Linked DNA regions of Homo sapiens. The protein of the gene in region 3 interacts with the protein of the main gene of each other region in a pairwise test. Each region holds a gene or a part of one and is shown on either strand. Other genes may lie near its edges. The genes, in order: GLRX5, HELZ, HSCB, LYRM7, ETFA, SUCLG2 and SDHAF1.

What was found.
Region 1: the proteins of HSCB (region 3) and GLRX5 interact in binary tests that used the Homo sapiens proteins (3 or more experiments, as listed by UniProt).
Region 2: the proteins of HSCB (region 3) and HELZ interact in binary tests that used the Homo sapiens proteins (3 or more experiments, as listed by UniProt).
Region 4: the proteins of HSCB (region 3) and LYRM7 interact in binary tests that used the Homo sapiens proteins (3 or more experiments, as listed by UniProt).
Region 5: the proteins of HSCB (region 3) and ETFA interact in binary tests that used the Homo sapiens proteins (3 or more experiments, as listed by UniProt).
Region 6: the proteins of HSCB (region 3) and SUCLG2 interact in binary tests that used the Homo sapiens proteins (3 or more experiments, as listed by UniProt).
Region 7: the proteins of HSCB (region 3) and SDHAF1 interact in binary tests that used the Homo sapiens proteins (3 or more experiments, as listed by UniProt).

What each region holds. Positions count from the first base shown.
Region 1 is NC_000014.9:95,541,550-95,545,049, forward strand, and holds the end of GLRX5 (glutaredoxin-related protein 5, mitochondrial precursor), read left to right. Parts: intron 1-2,397; coding exon 2,398-2,576; 3' UTR 2,577-3,165; downstream 3,166-3,500.
Region 2 is NC_000017.11:67,186,197-67,189,696, forward strand, and holds part of HELZ (probable helicase with zinc finger domain), read right to left. Parts: coding exon 3,393-3,500; intron 2,421-3,392; coding exon 2,123-2,420; intron 1-2,122. UniProt on the Homo sapiens protein: May act as a helicase that plays a role in RNA metabolism in multiple tissues and organs within the developing embryo.
Region 3 is NC_000022.11:28,752,039-28,755,024, reverse strand, and holds part of HSCB (iron-sulfur cluster co-chaperone protein HscB isoform 1 precursor), read right to left. Parts: intron 1-2,986.
Region 4 is NC_000005.10:131,194,944-131,198,443, forward strand, and holds part of LYRM7 (complex III assembly factor LYRM7), read left to right. Parts: intron 1-3,500.
Region 5 is NC_000015.10:76,280,470-76,283,969, reverse strand, and holds part of ETFA (electron transfer flavoprotein subunit alpha, mitochondrial), read left to right. Parts: intron 1-144; coding exon 145-213; intron 214-3,500. UniProt on the Homo sapiens protein: Heterodimeric electron transfer flavoprotein that accepts electrons from several mitochondrial dehydrogenases, including acyl-CoA dehydrogenases, glutaryl-CoA and sarcosine dehydrogenase.
Region 6 is NC_000003.12:67,525,613-67,529,112, reverse strand, and holds part of SUCLG2 (succinate--CoA ligase [GDP-forming] subunit beta, mitochondrial isoform 2 precursor), read left to right. Parts: coding exon 1-26; intron 27-890; coding exon 891-981; intron 982-3,500. UniProt on the Homo sapiens protein: GTP-specific succinyl-CoA synthetase functions in the citric acid cycle (TCA), coupling the hydrolysis of succinyl-CoA to the synthesis of GTP and thus represents the only step of substrate-level phosphorylation in the TCA.
Region 7 is NC_000019.10:35,993,945-35,996,812, forward strand, and holds SDHAF1 (succinate dehydrogenase assembly factor 1, mitochondrial), read left to right. Parts: upstream 1-1,243; 5' UTR 1,244-1,330; coding exon 1,331-1,678; 3' UTR 1,679-2,368; downstream 2,369-2,868.

The DNA.
Region 1 (3,500 bases), on a different chromosome or scaffold from region 3:
GGCTCATGAGAAGTTAGTATCACTTGCATGTGGCTGTGTGTGTTGGGTGTTGAGAATGTCTGAAAGCCTGCTTGTTTTGATAATTTTGGTGGTAAGGATTCTGGGGGTCTCCCCTTCTCTCGTAGTCAGGACATATGATCAACAGCAACATAAAGTTTAATCAATGAGGCAAGCCCAATGCTTCGATTGAGTGTGATACTATAAAAGTGATTGATGAAAAGCAATTTTACTTTAAAAACATGTATTTTTTGGGTAAAACATGTAGTTTTGGGTAGTTCTCAGGCAGCAAACATTTCCATTTTTGGTGTGTTTCAGAAATTATAGACATCCATCAAAATAAATCAGTAAAAATTGATTATCATGGAAAGCTTCACACAATATATTATTCATTGAAACAAAACAGGTCGTTCATGCACATAAATGATTCATTTGTATAAAAGGTATTTAAGAAAGTTGAAGATAATGAAAAGAAGCTCACGTTTACTTTAAATATTTCTTAATTCTCGCACCCAGCTCTCAGTCATCATAAAGGTAAAAGTTTTGTAATCGGCATCATTGTAAAAAGTGAGTTTTGATAGACTTTGTATTTGAGGACAGAGTTTGAAGAAAGTAAAAAAACACACAAATTATGCTAGTTGTTTTTGTTGATGGAGCATCAAACATCACCATGATGAACAACTTGAATTCATCAGGGTATTCTACTATGTCTAGATATTTGGCATTATAAAGACATTTTGATGATTAATGGAATTTACCCTTTATTGGCAGCTGCCAAAGAGCTAGCTGTTGTTTCTTTACTAGCACCCAGAGTGGCTGAGAGGTGTCCTTTTGGAGGCCTAGAGCAATGTAACCCTTTCTTAATATGTGAAGTCTGGAGAAGGAAGATAAAGCCCTTGGTTCAGGGGCTTTCTTTAGGGCTGTCATTTAGAGCAAAGTCAGTTTTTTTAATAAGGCAATAACTTTTAAGAAAAAAATAAATAGTATATTGGGACTTGTGATATAACTGAAATCAGTAATTTTATTTGGAAAATGTTTGATAATAAATTATAGGGTATCAAGAGCAAGTTTTTGTATTTTTAGTTTGTTTACATAAAAATCGATTTGTGTAAACTGTACTGGACTTGAACAATCTGTTGACTTTTCCGTTTTGTTTATCCATATGCTCATTTTGGCCATTTAAAAATATCTATCTATGTAAATATAAAAGTGTCACATAAGTGTTAGTTATTATATGCCATGCTTTGACCATCTTCGTTTTTAACATGACCAATACAGGCTTTTTAATGGCCGACTATGTTTTTGAAAGCACAGTCATCTCAACATACAAGTAGAAAAGGAAGTAGACTGATGAAGAGGAATGTTAAGAGTAATCTTTTATGTCTTAAGATTGAAGCCACATTTCTTTCTTACCATTTTGTTACAGTCATCATCCTTGTGGCTCAGAATTGAACAGAGTAGTTGCACAGCTGCGCTGTCACAGAGTGTCCCTCATCTCATGTGTGTCCTCAGAGCCATTTGCACACAGGACTGATCACATGCATGCTGGTTGGTTTCTTGGCTGCTGTGAGCGCTTAAGAGCAGAGCGGGTCTCACTCCCCCACCCCTCAGCCCTGGACAGGGACCTTGCTGAGCTCTGGGCCTTCATTAGACTCACCAGTCACTTCGGGTTCTGCACAGAGCCTCATCATCCACTCCACAGAGAGCCCATCACAGTGGCTGGATAGATGGGAACTGACAACCCATAGCTGTGGGACAGGGATTTTTCCCTGGGTAAAAGTAATTGTTAAAAATTAAAAAAAAAAAAAACTCAACAACTCATCATCTCGAGGAGAAGTGACTGACGGCCTGCACCAACTTAGACAGTCACAGTCATGAAAAGTGCACAGGTGGGATTGCCCGAGTTGGCCATGAATTACCGTGATGGATCCATTTGGAAATGAAGTTGGTTGTGACATTTCTTCAAGTTTTGTTTCGCTTGAAGCTTGACTGGTAGATGGAGAATTTTGGCCTTATGTATCTTATGTGACTTGCATTACCCAGTCCAGTCCTCTGCCATTAATCTAAGGTCCGCAATGTATCAGGTATTTTACTGAGAATCTTGCTTACCTAATTCTCACAAAAAAAAAAACCTTGGGAGATGAGGGTGGAAACAGGATGAGAGGTCAGGTGACTTGTCTGAGGGCTGACGGTTTGTAATTGGAAGAGTCAGGGCCTAACCACTGGTCTCTTTGACACAAAAACTCATGCTCTTAGTGGCAAGCACAGTGTTCTCAAGATTGGGGGAAGCCAGGGAGGGACAGTGGGTTGTCTGCTACTAGTGGGTCAAAATTACATATTTAGTCATGAATGGTTCAGCTTTTACCATTTAAATAACAAATAAATGTTCTTTCTCCATAGGCATTAAAGACTATTCCAACTGGCCCACCATCCCGCAAGTGTACCTCAATGGCGAGTTTGTAGGGGGCTGTGACATTCTTCTGCAGATGCACCAGAATGGGGACTTGGTGGAAGAACTGAAAAAGCTGGGGATCCACTCCGCCCTTTTAGATGAAAAGAAAGACCAAGACTCCAAGTGAGGGCGGCCAAGTCCTCGCTGAGCAGAGAGGGAGCCGTTCATGTCAGAGACTCACTGCCAGAAAAGCCTTACCCATTTTGGTTTTCACTATTGAGACCGCAACTGCTTGCACTGATCATTTTGGTTCGTGAGCAGTTGGTGATTTTAGTTGGTCTGGTGTTCGGGCTAAGAATATTTTATTGTGGACTTAATTACAACCACTGCACTGTAATGATTCAATGCTGTATTATGATATTGCTGTAAACAAAATTCATTCTTATATTGTCACTTATTCTTTGCCTGATTCAGAAGTTAAATAGGAGCTTTGGAATCATTATTCATGACCCCTCTGCAAATGTGTCAGTCTCCAAAGAGAGTATCTCCCCCCAAATTTTGTGTAGCTTCTTTTGTTATGGAAAATGGTGAACAAAAAAAGAAACTGTGATAACTGGGGCGTTGTTTTTTAAAATAAACTCCAGCACAGGGATGCTGTGCATGCCTGAGTTGATTCCGAAGTGCATATGTCTGTAAGGATTTGGAGTGCCTGCAGTGTTTTATGTGTGGGAAGTAAGGGTGAGTCTCATATTCTTCTATTAAATTTGCCACAAGAATTGCCGTCGAGCCCTGGTCTACTTTCTGGGGGAAGCAGCTGTTTGGATGGTGAGTCAACTGTGCAGCTGGAGGCGTGGGTGGGCTGGAGGGAGCAGAGGTGGGTGAGGCCGGAGGAGGCGGCCCCACCTGCCTATCTCTGGAGCCCTGTGCTTGGCACACTGCTACAGTTAGATAGGGAGACATCGTCAACAGTCCACCGAGCTAGGGGATTTAATGAGTATTTTACTTCTTAAAAAGTGGGGACTTTCTAAAAGAGGACATAATTTGGAATTGTGGCAGAGATTCTCCCAGTGTCTGGTGTCTTTATAAGACCTTTCCATGAGTTCTGCATCCC
Region 2 (3,500 bases), on a different chromosome or scaffold from region 3:
TTCCTTTTGTGTATAAGCCAGAAATTATCCTAATCAAGGCTAATTATAAACATAATAGCTACTATTAACTAAACGTCTACTATGAGCCTGATGTCGTACGAGGCTTCAGGTTGTCACAATGATCTATGACAGGTATTACTAGCCCCATTTTACAGATGTTTCCCCGTGAAGCCCAGAGAAGTTAAGTACTCTGCCCAGGCTCACACAGGCAATAAGTCGAAAATCAGGATTCAAATCCTATTCTATTTGACTCTGATTTTTGTCCTCTGCTCTTCTCCAACAAGAAAAGTAACTCGTATCTGAGGCAGAAGTAGTCAAAGTACTTTTACTCTTCTCAAGCCTATGAAAGTACCCTGAGCTCCTTTTCATCACCACCTTTTCTAATTATCATGTTTTAATACTATCGTTCTTTTACATTTTACTGCAGACATTTAACATTTTATATTATTAATTAAATATTTTACTAACTAATAAGAATTCTTGACAGCACTTACAAACATTTCTATGGGTAAAGGAGTCTGAGTTATAAGCCACTAACCTACAAGCAAATTTCTAAAATACAACCCACATGTAAGCCAAGAACATCCTTTACAGTTATATTTGAGAGTAGGAAATGTATGTTGTTCTCTCTTTATGACTTAAATCTCTTTATGATTTAAAAAGGATGCTGCTTAGTGGTTCTCAAGGTCTGGTCTCTAAAAGCAACTTACTAGTTCAGGGGTAGGCAAACTACAACACGAAAGTCAAATGTAGCCATTGTTTTTGAAAATAAAGTTTTATTGGAACACAGTCACACCCATTTGCTTATGCATTGTCTATGGCTGCTTTCTCATTACGACGCAGAGCTGAGTAGTTGCAACAGAGATCACCTGCCCTGCAACACCTAAAATATTAACCGTCTGGCCCTCTGCAGAAAGAATTTGCCAAATACTATGCTAATATATATAAGCCAAATACTTTATTTTTATTTTATCAACTACCATATCTATTTAGCTATGGAAATTAATTTATTCTGATTCCAAAGAGTACTGAAAAGATGACAAAAATACATACTACAGAATAAAAACAAGTAAAAGGGATCAAAGTCAGTGGGAAATAAGGGTAAAGTGAAGTCTGGGTAATCTTAGCACACGTAGAAGAAGATGTCACCTAACTGTTAAATTTGGGCACCATCGTTGTTTCAACCTTACTAGCAGCTAAAGTAAAGAGGAAGACAGACCAATTTCACCTTTTCACTATGTGAAAAAAAATAAAATTCTAGCATTCGCTAATGAGAAAAACTACTTCTAGGTTCTCATGAATGGGACATTATGGTACATAGTAAAAAACGTCCTCCACAATATGGTTAGTTATAGTCAATACAAAAGCAAGTTTCACACAGCTCTGCTTTTTGAAGTGTTTGTTAAATAAAAAGTTTTTGTTAAATAGAATAGAACACCTATAAATCCAACCAAGAGCAAAGGAAATGTGGGCTAACATGTCCTTTCTTTGTCCTGTTGGATCTTGGCATAAAATTTAGATATAGGCAATAAATTGACAATGTACAAAGTAATTCCTTATGTCATGCTTACATGATGAAACCAGGGACCTCTTCCCAAAAACAAAGAGCAGATTTGATTAAAGGCACCCTTGGCCTCCTTAACACTAGTGGATGCACAAACTGATTTATGAAGGCTTATTATACTCAAGACTTTTCATTCAGAAACAATGTACTAACATCAGCAAAGTTAACTAGTCAATAGGACATGAAAATAAACATTGTAGGTATATACACAATTACCATTAAAATGATATTCTACCCAAACTAATATTGAAAGATATTACTGTGCTAAAACCATCTTACTGTGAAATGAAACTGGTAGACCAAAACAGGTCTGATCATCTACTCATACAAGTTTGGGGAACCTCAAAGTTCAAGCTTTACCTGGTGGCTCTGTGAAGAAATCAGGGCACAGTGTGAATCATTATAAGCCCATTACACAGTAAATGAGTCAATTAAGTTGGGATTTTTTTCTTTATTACTATTCTCTTCCTATCCATGGAATATATTCAGGGGCCAATACATATCTTTGAATGTTGCTTTTTAACACATTGTATCGGGGGAAAAAAGTCTAAATATTACCTTCTGTAGAAGCTGCATCAATCATTACTCTTTGCATGAGTACTGGTTCCAATCCAAAGTCGAAAACTATGGTTTGGCGAAAAGTTCCAAATATTTCTGTGTTAAATGCTATCCCGACTTTATACACGTAATGATCTAATCCATTTTGGGCCATCTTTCCTCCTATCCATTCTTGACAGTTTTCTGGGACTTCTTGTGATACCTGGGTAGTACTATCTCCGGCAGATATTGCAATGATACTAAAATGAGGACGATGAGCATCATAAAGCAATGCTACACGATACAGCATTCTTGCAGGCTACAAGGAAGTTAAAATAATTCATTGAGTACAAGGGGGTGAAAAATCCAATTGTAATTGGGCTCTTCAATGAAAATATTTCCATAAGGGACTTTTACTTCCCCAAGCTTCTAAGATACTATAGCCATTTAAGAAAAAAATCAGAATGGTTTTTTAAAATCAGTTGTTAAAATTATTTATTTATGCTATATCGCTAGCCTCCCTTCTCTTCCTGTGACATGTTCATTTTTCACTGTGGCAAAAGCTATCACCCTATATAACCATCAACCTTCAAACTTTCCATACTCTTCACCTACAGAAGTTTCATGTAGCCTCAAGTAGGAAGCCTTCGTAAGAGGGCAGTTACCTCTGAAAGCACTGGATTGGGTTCAAGGCTGAAGCTAACTGTTCTTAGATTTTTCATCTCCAGATACAGAAAGTACAGCAGAAGAAATGCCACAAAAAAGACAAAAACTTTTCCACTGAGCATACTCACAGAAACTTTTTACTTTGCTTCGATCTTAAACTTTGACTACTATAATTTAAGATGGGAAGCACTGCAGAAAATGCCCCATATTAAAAACCCATTATCACAGAATTTGTGACTTCATCATATCAAATATAAAAACAAGTTGTTATGGTTTAAAAATCTTAGAACTACTAGAATAAACAATTTTTAAGTAGTTAATTACAAGCCATGAACCCCATCCTATGTCCCAAGTTTAGAAGACAATATGTCAAAGATCTCTTTACCAAATAAATAAATATGAAAGCACCCTAAATATCTACAAAGATCTCATCTAAAAGTATTTTTAAAATTGTACTTTTAATGATCAAAGTACAGAAATATACTTTAGTACAATATAGAACCTATATATAATGTACTTAGATTAAAATATTTTCAATATTCTTTAACACAGAGATTCAAAGGTCAAAAAAACGTTCAGAAAATTAAACACAACTTTTATGCTTTAACTAGCACAAAATTCATACCTTACAAGTGAGAGCAAAGGTCCATGTCTGGTGGGATTTTTTGGTGCTGACAGTAACTGACAGGTCAGGATTGTGCTCTACCTTTACTCCTTCTATACATTCACTAAG
Region 3 (2,986 bases):
CAGGAGTTCAAGACCAGCCTGGCCAACATGGTGAAATCCCATCTCTACTAAAAATACAAAAATTAGCCGGGTGTGGTGGCAGGCTCCTGTAATCACAGCTACTTGGGAGGCTGAGGCAGGAGAATCACTTGAAACCGAAAGGCTGAGGTTGCAGTGAGCTGAGATCATGCCACAGTACTCTAGCCTGGGCGAAAGAGCAAAACTCAGTCTCAAAAAAAAAAAAAATTAAGTTGGTAACACATGACATAAAATTCATCATGTTAGCCATTTCTAAGTGTACAGTTCAATGACATTAAGTACATTCACATTGTTGGGCAAGCATCACCACCATCCATCCACATAACTTTTTTTTTTTGAGATAGAGTCTTGCTTTGTTGCCCAGGCTGGAATGCAGTGGCATGATCTTGGCTCACTGCAGCCTCCACCTCCCGGGTTCAAGTGATTCTTGTGCCTCAGACTCCCAAGTAGCTGGGATTACAGGCATGCATCATCACACCTGGCTAATTTTTGTATTTGCAGTAAAGACGGGGTTTCACCATGTTGGTCAGGCTGGTCTCAAATTCCTGCCCTGAGATGATCTGTCTGCCTCAGTCTCTCAAAGTGCTGGGATTACAGGTGGGAGCCACCGTGCCTGACCTTCCACAGAACTCTTTTCATCTTGCAAAACTGAAGCTCTCTACTTATGAAATAACTCTCTATTTTCCTCTTCCTGACTCTATCCCCCCACAACCACCATTCCACTTTCTCTATGAATCTGACTACCACAGGTACCTCATATAAGTGGAATTATATAGTATTTGTCCTTTTGTGACTGACATTTCACATAGTACAATGTCCTCAAGGTTCATCCATGTTGGAGCCTGTGTCAGATTTTTTTTTGTTTGTTTGTTTTTGAGATGGAGTTTCGCTCTTGTTGCCGTCAGGAGTGCAGTGACACGATCTCGGCTCACTGCAAACTCCACCTTCCAATTTCAAGCGATACTCCTGCCTCAGCCTCCTGAGTAGCTGGGATTACAGGCATCTGCCACCACACCCAGCTAATTTTTCAGAGACGGGGTTTCACCATGTTGGCCAGGCTGGTCTAGAACTCTTGACCTTGTGATCTGCCGACCTTGGCCTCCCAAACTGCTAGGATTACAGGCGTGAGCCACCGCGCCCGGTCCTGTGTCAGAATTTCTTTTTTTTTTGAGATGGAGTCTCCCTGTGTCACCCAGGCCGAAGTGCAGTGAGGTGGTCTCCACTCACTGCAAGCTCCACCTCCCAGGTTCACGCCATTCTCCTGCCTCAGCCTCCTGAGTAGCTGGGACTACAGGTGCCCGCCACCACGCCTGGCTGATTTTTTGTATATTTAGTAGAGACGGGGTTTCACCGTGTTAGCTAGGATGGTCTCGATCTCCTCACCTCATGACCCACCCGCCTCAGCCTCCCAAAGTGCTGGGATTACAGGCGTGAGCCACCGTGCCCGGCTGGTGTCAGAATTTCTATCCTTTTTTTTTGAGTTGGAGTTTTTCTCTTGTCGCCCAGGCTGGAGTGCAATGGTGCGATCTCAGCTCACTGCAACATCTGTCTCCCGGGTTCAAGCGATCTTCCTGCCTCAGCCTCCTGAGTAGCTGGGATTACAGGCGCCCGCCACCATGCCACCCTAATTTTTTTGTATTTTTAGTAGAGATGGGGTTTTACCATGTTGGCCAGGCAGGTCTCGAACTCCGGACCTCAAATGATCCGCCCGCCTCAGCCTCCCAAAGTGCTGGGATTACAGATGTGAGCCACCACGCCCGGTCTAATGTTGCTTTTATTATTTTGAAAACACTTTGTTAGATCAATTTAAAAAATAAGTTTTAATTTTGCATTTACTTATTCCTTTCTCCAATGGTCTTCCTTTCGTTATGTAGACCCAAGTTTCCGACCTATATAAATTTCCTCCACTCTAAATAATTTTTTTTTTTGAGATGGCATCTCATTCTGTCACCCAGGTTGGAGTGCATTGGCGTGATCTCGGCTCACTGCAACCTCCGACTTCCGGGATCAAGCCATTCTCCTGCCTCAGCCTTCGGAGTAGCTGGGATTACAGGCGAGCGCCACCATGCCTGGCTACTTTTTGTATTTTTAGTAGAGACGGGGTTCCACCATGTTTGTCAGGCTGGTCTCGAACTCCTGACCTTGTGATCCGCCCACCTTGGCCTCTCAAAATGTGGGGATTACAGGCGTGAGCCACCACGCCTAGCCAATCAATTCTTTTAACATTTTTTTTACGTGGCAGGTCTCCTGTCAACAAATTTTTTTTTTTTTTTGAGATGGAGTCTCGCTCTGTTGCACAGGCTGGAGTGCAGTGGCGCGATCTCTGCTCACTGCAAGCTCCGCCTCCCGGGTTCACGCCATTCTCCTGCCTCAGCCTCCCGAGTAGCTGGGACTACAGACGGTCACCACCAGGCCTGGCTAATTTTTTGTATTTTTAGTAGAGACAGGGTTTCACTGTGTTAGCCAGGATATTCTCAATCTCCTGACCTTGTGATCCGCCAGCCTCAGCCTCTCAAAGTGCTGGGGTTACAGGCATCATTAACCATGCCCGGCCCAATTTTTTTTTTTTTTTTTTTTGAGACAAAGTCTTGCTCTGTCACCAGGCTGGAGTGCAGTGGCGTGATCTTGGCTTACTGCAGCCTCCGCCTCCCAGGTTCAAACGATTCTCCTGCCTCAGCCTCCCTAGTAGCTGGGATTACAGGCGCGCCACTGCGCCTGGCTAATTTTGTATTTTTAGTAGAGATGGGGTTTCACCATGTTGGCCAGGATGGTCTTGATCTCTTGATCCACCCGCCTCGGCCTCCCAAAGTGTTGGGATTACAAGTGTGAGCCACCGCGCCCAGCCCAAATTCCTTCAATTTTTATTTGCCTGAGAATAGCTTCATTCCTCCTTCAGGTTTTTTTTTTGTTTGTTTTGAGAGGGAGTCTCGCTTTGTTGCCCAGGCTGGAGTGCAGTGGCGTGATCTTG
Region 4 (3,500 bases), on a different chromosome or scaffold from region 3:
TCCACTTCCTGGTGATATGAGTTAGGCAAAATAAAATTGGCCGGGATCGCTGGCTCACACCTGTTATCCCGGCACTTTGGGAGGCTGAGGTGGGCAGATCACCTGAGGTCAGGAGTTTGAGACCAGCCCCCTGGCCAACATGGTGAAACCCCGTCTCTACTGAAAAATATAAAAATTAGCCAGGCATGGTGGTGGGCGCCTGTAATCCCAGCTACTCGGGAGGCTGAGGCAGGAGAATTGCTTGAACATGGGAGGCAGAGGTTGCAGTGAGCCGAGATCACAGCCACTGCACTCCAGCCTGGGCGACAGACAGAGCAAGGTTCTGTCTCAAAAAATAATAATAATGATAAATAAAATTGAAAAAGAGGTTGAATGCAGATTAAGCTAGCCCACAAAGCAGAGATAGAAAAAAGTATTACTTTGCTAAAAGGCACAATTCTGTCTACAGCCTAGAGTCTAATTGATTAAGAGTCCCATAATTTAGAGCCTTGGAGAGTTAAAAATGCTAATTGTTCTTATCCACTAAAACTAAAGCCAGTACAAGCAGGGAAATTCTGAGCTGTAACATGAAATAAGATCGATGCCTCAAGACTTTCTCATTCTTCCAGACAAAGATTAGATATATGATTCATTTACTGACTGGAACTTACTATTCTTCATTGCTTTAAGAAGTGGCCCCTAAGGTAAGGGTTAAGGAGATGGGCAGAACGTAGAGGCTGCTACCAAAGGATGACAGTCTTCATCCTTATTTTTCTGTGGCTACTTGTGCATGGAAATGACTGGAAACCAATTTGAAGCTTATAAAGTTTTTGAGTGAATTGTATTGCCAAGAAACTCCAGGCCTGGCTAGCTCTTTTCACCTCTTAAGGCCACCCCTGGGCCCCTAAACTCCTATCACCAGGAAGTAGACTATGAAAGCTTTTAAAGCCCCAAAGAAGGGCATCTTCCCCAGTATCTCCACCTTAGAACAATGAGGCTCAGCAGGACCTAATGGAAACACTAGCACTGTAACCAAACATCCTTGATTTCAGTCTAGATGAGACCTGAGGGGACAGGTAGTGAGTGGATGTATGCTACAGATGGAAAGAAGGATTTATATGCATTTTGCATAGCCAAAGGGGTTGTGCTTGTTGCCTCTCCAGTATCTATTCTCCTGTTCTTTTTTTTTTTTTTTTTTGGAGATAGAGTGTCCTTCTGTCGCTCAGGCTGGAGTGCAGTGGCACGATCTTGGCTCACTGCAACCTCAGCCTCCCGGGTTCAAGCGATTCTCATGCCTCACACCTCCTGAATAGCTGGGACTACCGCTCGGGCAATCCAACCACCTCGGCCTCCTAAAGTACTAGGAGTATAGGTGTGAACCACCGTGCTTGGCTTCTCCTGTTCTTTTTTACTAACTGAGAAATTGTGTTCAGGGTGCAATGTACCAAGCAAAAAAAAAGTTATTTTCCAGACCATGTGACACCTTTCTGGTCTATATAAACCGTGTCTATTCGGTGTTACTTCCAAGAAAGTCATTGTTTTCCTGTTTAAAAGGAGCAGGCTGAGCTGGCACTCTCCTTTTGCCCTTTTCTCTCTTCTTCCCATCTGGAGTGCAGATGTGATATGACAAGCAGCAGTGAAGACAAAACCACTCATGGAAGGTAGCAGAACAGGAAGAGAGAAAGAGCCTGGGTCCTTAGTATCACTAAGGACAAGCACTAGCCCAGAACTGCCTTAATCTGTATTTCTTTTTTTTTTTTTCCGAGATGGAGTCTAGCTCTGTCGCCCAGGCTGAAGTACAGTGGCACGATCTCGGCTCACTGCAACCTCTGCCTTTGGGTTCAAGCGATTCTCCTGCCTCAGCCTCCCTGGTAGCTGGTGCCTGCCACCACGCCCAGCTAATTTTTGTATTTTTAGTAGAGACAGGGTTTCACTGTGTTGGCCAGGCTGGTCTCGAACTCCTGACTTTGTGATCCGCCCACCTCGGCCTCCCAAAGTGCTGTGATTACAAGCATGAGCCACCATGCCTGTCCTTTAATCTGTATTTATTGATAATGTGAGAAAAATTAAATCTCTTACTTATTTAAACCAGCTTTTGGACTTTGGTTATTCAGAACTGAACATACTCTAAAGTGATATGGGTATATTTAACCATTTATTTTTCCATTCTCCCATAAAAGTCTTGTTCCACTTTTGTAACACATGACATTATACTATAATTTGTTGTTTATCTAGCTATCTTTTCCATTAGATTGTGAGTTTCTGGAAGCTGAAGAGACTATTATATATTCACCTTCATATCTTAATTTCTTGATGTAATGTCTAGCATGAAATAGGCACATATAGGTTTGATAAGTGAAACAAATTATTGCCATTGTTAACAAGTTAAAATGCACACTACAATTTATTCTCTGATGAAATCTCCATAGGTTTGGTAAAAGCAAGTGAGATATAAACAATGGTTAAATAATACTTATTTAACTGGTTTTCATTTCAGTAAGCCAAATTTATCATCTGGCTAATAAGAGCACTATTCTTAGTCAGACCAGTTCTTTCTTAATTAAGTGAAATATTCAGTTTGCCTTTTGGGTTGAATTTGTTTTAGTGTTGTCTTCTGTCTTTTTTTTTTTTTTTTTTTTTTGAGAGAGAGAGTCTGTCTCCCAGGCTGGAGTGCAGTAGCATAATTATTGCTCACTGTAATCTCAAACTCCTGGGCTCAAGCAATCCTCCTGCCTCAGCCTCTTGAGTAGCTAGGAATACAGGTGTGCACCACCATGCCTAGCTAATTTTTAAACAATTTTTTGTAGAGACAGAGTCTCGCTGTGTTTCCCAAGCTGGTCTCAAACTCCTGGCCTCAAGCAATCTTCCCACCTCAGCTTCCCAAAGTGCCAGAATTACAGGCATGAGCCGCTGCATCTGGCCACTGTGTGTGTGTGTGTGTGTGTGTGTGTGTGTGTGTGTGTAAATATATATATTTTTAAAACCTTTTTATTTTGAAATAATTCAGATTTACAAAAAAAGTGCAAAAGTTGAAGGGTATGAGAATTTCCTTTACCCAGATTCTACAAATGCTAACATTTTACCATATTTGCCTTATTGTGTTTCCCTCATTTTTTTTTCCTGAACTTTCTGAGAGTAAGTTGCAGACATAATGCCTATTTACCCCAAATGAACATTTTTAGAATTATGACAGCCCATTTGGGTCTAGATCTCCTGGAGAAATACCTTAGAGTATATTTTTTTAAGATACTTCAGTGTGTATTTCCTAAATATACAAGGACATTCTCTAATGTAACTGCAATATAATGACCAAAACCAGGGTATTAATATTGATGCAATGCTATCATTTAATCTTTCCATTTGTCCTAATAATGTATTTTATGGCAAAAGGAAAAAAAATTCCCTGTGGACCAGTATCCTATTGGGGATCACACATTGCATGTAGTCATCATGTCTCTTTAGGTATCCTTAATCTAGAGCAGTCCTTCAGTCTTTCTTCGTCTTTCATGTCCATGATGTTT
Region 5 (3,500 bases), on a different chromosome or scaffold from region 3:
CCAGAAAAGGTTTATAGAGGAGGTGACATGCTTAATATGGCAGTTACATAATATGAAAATTTACTCCAGTATATAAAATAGCAAAATTGTTCCAGAATGTATTTGATGTTTGCCTAATTTTTTTTTTTCATCTTTTTAAATGAGGTCGAGGCTTGAAGAGTGGAGAGAACTTTAAGTTGTTATATGACTTGGCAGATCAACTACATGCTGCAGGTAAAGTTATTTTCCTTAGTAGAAAGATATTCCCTTTTTGTTGGAAATATTTTTTCTTCATTATTTCATTTTTGTGTAAGTCTTTCAGCCCTACAAATTATTTTACTTTTCCGGATTTTTCAGTTTTTCTCTCTGAACCAGTTTTTCTTAAGCCTCCAAGTAAATGGTATATAGCATTCAGTGAGGAGAAGGCCTCCTAGTATCTCTTACCTTTGCCTAATCTTAGTAGGTTTTCTTTTTTCTTCACTTTAAAAATAATGAAATGGGCCAGGCGCAGTGACACACACCTGTAATCCTAGCACTTTAGGTTGCTGAGGCAGGAGGACTGCTTGAGCCCAGGAATTTGAGACCAGCCCTAGCAATGTAGTGAGACCCCATCTCTACAAAACGTTTAAAAATTAGCCAGGCATATTGGTGTGTGCTTGTAGTCCCAGGTACTCAGGAGGCTGAGGTGGGAGGATTGCTTGAGCTTGAGAGGTGGAGGCGACAGTGCACTGTGGTCGTGCCACTGCATTCCAGTCTGGGCAACAGAGTGAGACCCTGTCTCAAAAATAATAAAAGACAAAATAATGAAATGTTAGTTTCAGTGCCTACTTCAGATTCAGGAATACCCTGGTTTTTCATCTTTTTTTTGGTGGTCTTAATATAACTCTTATACAAATAGAAATACATTTAAAGTTTTTAAGTTTGTAGTTAAAAATATAGAATTGTAGTTAACCATTTATAGGTAAGGTAGAACCTATTGCTAAAAGTACATTGATGAGAAGGGAGTGATGTTTTTTGAAAAACCAAAAAAATTTAAGCCAGGCACAGTAGCATGTGTCTGTAATCCCAGTTACTTGGGAGGCTGAGTTAGGAGGATTGCTTGAACCTAGGAATTTGAGACCAGCCTAGGCAACCTAATTGAGACCCTGTTTTGAAAAAAAATCTTTTTAAAGACATTTGATTATTTTTGAATTACACAATCACTACAATGAATATATATTAAAATGTCCCAATTCTGTCATCTCACCCTCCTTTTAAGACTTTAACATATAACTTTCGAGGGTTTTCCTGTAACTTTCTGTGGTTTTCCTGTGCGAAATTTCTATTACATAACACGTGTACCCATAGAAACAGTAATAGTTTTGTCAGAATAAAGGCATTATATTGACACTGTATAATCAGATGGTAGTATTTCAGGGTTTATTTTCATTCCTTCTTTCTTTGAACAAGTATTTATCAAGTGTCTGCCATATTCCAGGTACTATTTTAGGTGCTATTAGTTTATTTTGGCTACAGTAATAAGTTACTACAAACTTGGTGGCTTAAAGCAACAAAGTTTTTCTCTCACAGCTTTGGAGGCCAGAGATGTGTTGAAGTGTTAGCAGGGGCCATACTCCCTCTGGGGGCTCTAGGAGATAATCTGTTATTTTCCTCTTCCAGCTTCTGGTGGCTACTCTGATATCCCTGGGCTTGTGGCCACATCACTACAACCTCTGCCTCTGTCTTCATATCATCTTCTCTGTGGGACTGCATTCAGTCTCCTTCTGTGTCCCTCTTATAAGGATACATGGCAGGCGTGGTGGCTCATACCTGTAATGCCAGCACTTTGGGAGGCCAGGGTGGGCGGATCACCTGAGGTCCGGAGTTTGAGACTAGCCTGGCCAACGTGGTGAAACCCCATCTGTACCAAAAATATAAAAATTAGTTTGATGTGGTGGTGCACACCTGTAATCCCAGCTACTTGTGAGGCTGAGGCAGGAGAATTCCTTGAACCTAGAAGGCGGAGGTTGCAGTAAGCTGAGACTGTGCCACTGTACTCCAGCCTGGGTAACAGAGTGAGATGCCGTCTGGAAAAAAAAAAAAAAAAAAAAAAAGGATACGTGTAATGGCATTTAGGGCCCATGTAGATAATCCAGGATAAACTCCCTCTCAAGATCCTTAGCTTTATATATATCTGCTGCCACGTAGGTAATATTCACAGGTTCTGGGTATTAGGATGTGAATATATCATTGGAGGGGCCATTTTCTTGCCTACTACAGACACTTAACACCATAGATTAGTAAATAATATAATATGGGCCAGGCGTGGTGGCTTACGCCTGTAATCACCTGAGGTCAGGAGTTTGAGACCAGCCTGGCCAACATGGGGAAACCCCGTCTCTACTAAAAAATACAAAAATTAGCTGGGCGCAGTGATACGTGCCTATAGTCCCAGCTACTTGGGAGGCTAAGGCAGGAGAAACGCTTGAACCTGGGAGGCAGAGGTTGCAGTGAGCAGAAATCATGTCACTGCACCCTAGCCTGGGCAACAGGGCGAGACTCTGTCTCAAAAAAAAAAAAAAATGTTAGAGAGTCGTAAGTGTTAGGGAGACTAATAGGATGGGTTATGGGGGGTGGAGAATTGAAGGGAAAGATTGAAGTTTAAAATAAGATAGCCAGATTTGGCCTTAATGAGAAAGAGACATCTGGCTGGGTGTGGTGGCTCATGCCTGGAATCCCAGCACTTTGGGAGGCCAAGGCGGGCGGATCACTTGAGGCCAGGAGTTCAAGACCAGTCTGGCCCACGTGGTGAAACCCCGCCTCTACTAAAAATATAAAAATTAGCTAGGTGGGCGGATTTCTTGAGGCCAGGAATTCAAGACCAGCCTGGCCGACATGGTGAAACCCCACCTCTACTAAAAATACAAAAATTAGATGGGTATGGTGGCACGTACCTGTAGTCCTAGCTACTCAGGAGGCTGAGGCGGCAGGATCACTTGAACCATGAGGTGGAGGTTGCAGTGAGCTAAGATTGTGCCACTGTACTCCGGCCTGGGTGACAGAGACACTGTCTGAAAAAAAAAAAAAAAAAAAAGACATCTGAACAAAGGTTTGAAGGAGGTGAGGAAGCGACCCATGAGGAGATCTGAGGGAGAGTGTTCCAGACCAGAGCAACTAGTAAAGTGCACAGAGCCTGTCTAACGCAGGAACACATCTGGCCTATTTGACGAATAGGAAGGAGGCCAGTGTTGGAATGGAAAGTGCAAAAGAGAAAGTAGCAAGAGATAAAATTGGGAGGCAACACAAGACCAGATCACATAGGGCCTTATAGGACATTGTAGAGATTGCTCTTTCTCTGAATGAAATGGGGAACCATTTCAAGGTTTGAGCAGAAGAATGACATGATCTAACACATTTTTAAAGGATCACTTTGGCTGCAGTTTTGTGAATAAGCTGTAGGGGGTAAGTATAGTAATGGGGAGATCAATTAGCAGGCTATATCAGTCGTCTAGGTGGGAGATACTCATAGTTTGGACCAGGGT
Region 6 (3,500 bases), on a different chromosome or scaffold from region 3:
AAAGGAGGTGTTCATTTAACAAAAGAGTAAGTCTGGAGGTTGTTATTCCTTGTCTTTTGGCCAAGCAGTTATGGAAGATCTTGCTCAAGATTGAAAGGCACACTGAGGTTGGTTGTGGTGGGGTAGGAGCGGGCCAAAGCAACTAGAAGAAACTGAAATCATAGGTAGAGGGCTCTGGCAGTGCCCTAGTTTTCCTTCTGCCCCCACAAAATGATTTTTCTTACTAATTGGTGAAAACTTGACAGTCCTTCTGTCCTAAACAATCAATGATTCATCATAAATGTTGGAAATGATACCACTTCCAACTGAAATGCTACTTCCATAATGTCACTCCTCTATTCAAGGACCTGAAGGGACTCCCCATTACCAGTGGCATCTGGGGTACCTCCCCTCTGATAGTCCAAGCCTTCCTTTATTTGAGCCTGTCTTTTCAACTTCATCTCCTGCATCTCCTAGCACTGAACACTTTCCTCTCCTCCCTGTTCCTGTCACACACCTTTTTACTATTTACTTTGATCTTTACCCTCTTCCTTTCCCTCTCATTGTTCAATATCTCCCCAGTTTTCCACTGTCGGATCTTCAGTCAACCCTTATCTGAATCTGGTGTGCATTTCAGCATTCTCTCTTTACTATGACTGTAACTTTTTTGGGTGAAGAGGTCACAAAGCATCTTTTGTTTCATTTATTCATTCATGAACTCACTTTTATTTTGCTCTCAGTGAGCCTCTAGTACAGTGCTAAACACGCAGCACATAAGCAGAAAGACTCATGGATTTTGTGAGGGTGAAGGTGAACCCTTTGCAGTGTAGACATGAGGCTCTGTGTAAGGACTCTCATTTAAATGATTTTCAACAAACATTCATTTTCTGCTTGTTTTCTCTTTCTCTTAGCCCTAATGTTGTGGGACAGCTGGCTAAACAGATGATTGGGTACAATCTAGCGACAAAACAAACTCCAAAAGAAGGTGTGAAAGTTAACAAGGTAATATGGATACTTTGGGTCATTTTCTATATATGTGTTAAAAAATAGAAAAGAAAACCATCCTTCAGTTTTTGACAGAATCTAATGAAGTACTGCTCTTTGGCAGTGTGCCATTTTATTTTTTAAAGCTCATCTAATCTGTTTAGTAAGTAGTATGTCTTGGAGGAGAAATAAAAAGGGCTCTATGATAGTAATATTATTTATTATCATTAGCATTTAGCAAAAAGTGGGTGAGGGTGAGTGACCGAGCAATGGCTTTCCCTCTGAGAACACAGATGCATTCTATTTAGTTGAGAAGCGCTTGCTGTGACAGCCTTATACTCAGTGAGGGACATTCGCTGCTCCCACACAGTGGCCCTCAACCCCAGGCGTGTCTGTCAGAATTACCTATTGTGGTTGTTTTTCTAAATGCCCCATTCCTTATTTTAGGATGACTGTAATTTTGAGCCATTTTTATTGCTGGGGGTATATTGCATTAGGAAGGTCAGCTGAAGTACCCAAGTATGTATAGCATGTGGACACACACCCCTCATCCACACATAGAAAATAAAGCCCAGAGGAAAGTGGCCTGCCTCAGTCATGAAATTGTGAGTGGTAGAGCTGAGACCAGAACCTAACTCTCCCTCCTGCCAATCTACCTTTCACCATCCCTTTTGTGTATCCAGACACTAGAACTAGCTACCTGGGTTGCAGAATCCAGTGCCAAATAAAAAGGCAGGGACCCGTGTTAAAATTTCAAGACAGCTATAGCTAAACATTAAATCCCTTTACAACTACACAGATCACATGTGTCAGCCCTGAAAAGCATCCATGGTTAGAAGATCCTGTCCTAACAGCGAATTAGGGTCCTGCATTTTGGGGTGGCAGCTGTCTGCTCTGTTGACATAGCGTCACAGATCAGTGGTCTCTACCAATGCACCATGCTGCAGGACACTGCAGTGGTGACATCCTGTTTTTACTTTTCAGGGAGAGTTTTGTGGAAAACTCTTAAGTTGTTGTATTTATCAGTATTTAGTTCCATTTTCTTTTGTTAATTTTTGTGGGTACATAGTAGGTGTATATATTTATAAGGTACATGAGATGTTTTGATATAGGCATACAATGTGTAATAATCCCGTTACAGTCCTTTTTCTTGCTATGTAGCAATCTATGATATGGATGTACCTACCACAGTTTGTTTAACCATCATCTGTTGAAAGACATCTGGGTTGGTTCGTTTTTGGCTATTACAAATAAAGCCACTCTAGACATTCATGAACAGGTTTTTGGTATAAATATAAATCTTCATTTTGGGGGATAATTGTTGGGTTATGTGGAAGTTGTATAATTAGTTTTTTTAAGAAACTGATGAATGTTTTCCAGCATGGCTGTTCCATTTTACATTGCCATCAGCAATGTGTAAGTGGTCAGGGTTCTCCACATTCTAGCCCGCATTTGGTGGTGGTGGTATTATTTTAGCCATTCTTATGGGTGTGTAGTGATATTTCATTGTGATTTTAATTTGCATTTCCCTAATGGCTAAAGATGTTGAACATCTTTTCATGTGCTTATTTGCCATCTGTAGATTGTGGTTGGTGAATTGTCTGTTCATGGATGCTATGGTCTGAATGCTCCCTCCAAAATGCATGTTGAAATTTAATCCCCATTGTGGTTTGCATTAAGAGGCAGAGCCTTTTGGGAAGTGATTAGTCATGAAGGCTCTGCCCTCATGAATGGATTAGTGCAGGCTTGTCCAACCCACGGCCCACAGGCCACAGGCATCCCAGGATGGCTTTGAAAGTGGCCCAAGACAAATTTGTAACCTTTCTAAACATTATGAGATTTTTTTTGCAATTTTAGTTTCTTAGCTCAGCTATTGTTAGTGTTAGTGTATTTTATGTGCGGCCCAAGACAATCCTTCTTATGCCATTGTGGCCCAGGGAAGCCAAAATATTGGACATCCCTGGTAGTGCTTTATAAAAGGGCTGAAGGGAACTAGCTTAGACCTGTTTTGCATTTCCACTTTCTGCCATGTGAGGATGAAGCAAGAAAGGCCATATCACTAAATGGCGGTGCACTGATCTTGGACTTCCCAGCCTCCAGAACTGTGAAACAATATATTTTTGTCCTTTATAAATGACCAAATCTCAGGTATTTTGTAACAGCAGCATGAAGAGACAAAGCAAATTTCTTTTGGCCATTTTCTAATTAGATTATGTTTTTACTATTGAGTTTTGAGTTATTCTAGGTACTAGTCCACTGTTGGATATGTGCTTTGTAAGTATTATCTGTTACACTATATAACGTATATATTCATTTTTTCAACAGGGTCATTTGCAGGGCAAAAGTGTTTAATTTTGATGAAGTCCAATACGTCAATATTTCCTTTATGGATTATACCTTTTTAGTATCAGGTCTAAGTCCTCTTTACGTTGCCCTACATAATAAAAATTTTCTCATGTTTTTTTCTAGATGTTTTATAGTTTTATGTTTTATATTTAGGTTTGTGATCCATTTTGAGTTGACTTTTGAATAAGTTG
Region 7 (2,868 bases), on a different chromosome or scaffold from region 3:
TCTCCTCTCTGAAGGGGAATGGACCCCCCAGCTGGTTGCCGGCCCAAGTGTGCAGAGCCGCGGTTGCGCGCTGGGTGGAGGGGTCCCCCAAGCTCCGGTGCTGGTGGGGCCCGAGGATGCTGTGTCCTTGCGGGCCTCCCTAGCGCTACGAGGACACCTCCAGGCGGCCCGCGGGGACAACAACGGCATTGCGGCCTACCACCTAAAGCTCCTGGGAGGACAACGGGGTTGCAGTCTAGTCGACTGTTCAGGGTGTCCCGGACTCCGGGCTTTAACAGTCGGTAAGGACCCAAACACCGCTGTCCACTGCCCCGACTCCCACCCGCAGAGGGCGCGACCAACCCAGCTCCTAGAGCCACACGCTGCCTCTGGGGGCTTGGCGCCCACACTCTCTCTGCTTGTCTTCCCCTGGCCCGAGAAGCCTGTCCAACCGGCCGAGAGCCATTTCCCTACGGGGTCTCGTCCCTCTGCACGTGCCCAGGGCTGGGACCCCAGACACAGACCTGCCCCGGACGAGGGAACGCACGGAGCTTCCCAAGATGGTTTGAATCAGTAACTGACGGCAAAAGCACGCTTGTGCCCGGCGTCTCTCCCAGTGCCCCGTGCCCTTGGGACCCAAAGTCCGAACCGGTAGCCGGGCGCGGTGGCTCACGCCTGGAATCCCAACACTTTGGGAGGCTGAGAATCGTTTGAGCCCAGGAGTTCGAGCCATTCTGGGCAACATAGGGAGACCCATCTCTGCAAATAATAATAATAATAAATAAATAAATAAATAAATAAATAAATAAATAAATAGCGGGCGCGGTTGCGCGCGTCTGTGGTTCCAGCTACTAGGGGAGTTGAGGTGGGAGGATCGCTTGGGCCCAGGAGTTCGAGGCTGCAGTGAGCCAAGATCGCGCCACTGCACTCCAGCCTGGGCGACAGCGAGACCCCGTCACACACAAAAAAACCCCTAGCTTCCTCTTCTCCCAGAATGCAGGAGTTAGGTGAGGACCCTCTGTTCCCTCCAACCCAAGACCTAGGAGTCCGAACACATAACGCCCTCCAGGCGGTGCCAGGATCCCCAGAACTGCTGTCCCCTCAAGAACACACGTCCCCTACGTGGGAGGCCGCGACCAGCGACTCCGCCCACTTCTCCCAGCCGGCTGTTACGTAACTGCAACGACAGCCAGTCAGACGCGGCAGCGCCGGATGGCGGGAGGCGGGAGTTGGAGGCCAAGGGAAGCGCTGGGCGGAAGTGGCTGTGGCTTTGCCCTTTGGCCTTTGCTGGCTGTGTGGCGGCTCCGCGGTTCGCAGGTCGTTCGCTGAGCGTCTCTGCTTAGCCGCGGTCATGAGCCGGCACAGCCGGCTGCAGAGGCAGGTTCTGAGCCTGTACCGCGATCTGCTGCGCGCCGGGCGTGGGAAGCCGGGCGCCGAGGCGCGAGTGCGGGCAGAGTTCCGGCAGCATGCGGGCCTGCCGCGGTCCGACGTGCTGCGCATCGAGTACCTGTACCGCCGCGGGCGGCGCCAGCTGCAGCTGCTACGCTCGGGCCACGCCACCGCCATGGGCGCCTTCGTACGCCCGCGGGCCCCGACCGGGGAGCCTGGCGGCGTGGGTTGCCAGCCTGACGACGGCGACAGTCCAAGGAACCCCCACGACAGCACGGGGGCACCGGAGACCCGCCCCGACGGACGGTGACAGGCGAAGAGCCGAACTCGCTCGATGGCGTGGTGGAGCCAGGAGGCTCGCCTGACTGCATGGGGGGACTGGGGAACCCGCCTAAGGTGAGAGGTCTTAAGAGACTAGCTTGACGAATTGGGGATGTCAGAGACTCCTCCTTGGCGACGCAGGGGGCCTAGAGAGCCCCGTGATGGACGGCAAGGGAGGCCCGCCTTTTCCGATGCTTGGAGACAGGTCGGTGCTCCTCCCCCATGAGGGCTTGGGGCGGCCTGGGACGCTGGCGGGCTGGACAGTGTCAAGCCAAGAGCTACTTGCCCGAAGGTACGGGGAGCCAGGACGACCCCCGGTGGACAGGGAGAGCCTGAGACGCCCTTCTCTTGACCCCTGAGAACATACCCACTTCTGGCTCCTCAAGGAGTCTCCCCTCTCCTGTATTTAACTCTGAGAAGTGCAGACTTTTTGCTGAGAACGTTTTGGGAAGGTGCCCTGATGAGCGGTGAGAAGCCCGGAATCCCCTTCTGGAAAACTTTCCCCCATTAATTGTGACAAGCCAGGACCATGAGGAAGGGGTAGGGGTCTATCACCCTGGTTGATCAACTGAAGACCCCCAAAGGCCCCTACTTGATGGTTTTGAGGGGCAACATTGACTCATTTGCCCCTTCCCTCTCGGAATGTTGGACAAAGGGAATAAAATTGGGGATATGTCTACTTCCCTGTTGGTGGTCTTAAAGCTTTTATATATTTCAGGATTTTTGAAACACCCCCAGCCCCCCTGCCACCACACACACACGCACACAGACACCTGGAAGGGACCATCTGGGAGGTGATAGGTGTGGGGATCTGACTCCTTCCGGAGCCCTGTAGACTGGCACATTGATTGAAGCGGCATAGTTTTCTCCCCTGGGCAGATCTGTGGAGGGGGCTCATCCTGGCTTAACCCCCAAAGATACCCCAGTTGGCTCCCTAATGGAGGGCAAGTGATTTAACATCTTTGTGTGGAAGAGGAAATGGTGGAGCTGAGAACTGGCTCGGAGCCCCTGAGGCAGTAGTGAGGGTCTCAGACCTGGAAATTTCTCAAACCTGGCTGAAGGGTCCAGCCTCAGCTACAGTGAACGACAAGGCCCTGGGGCAGGAGAGGGGAGATGAACCCCATAGATCACAGATATACTCCCTCCGGTGTCCCCATATGGGCCTGCCCTAGACATTCT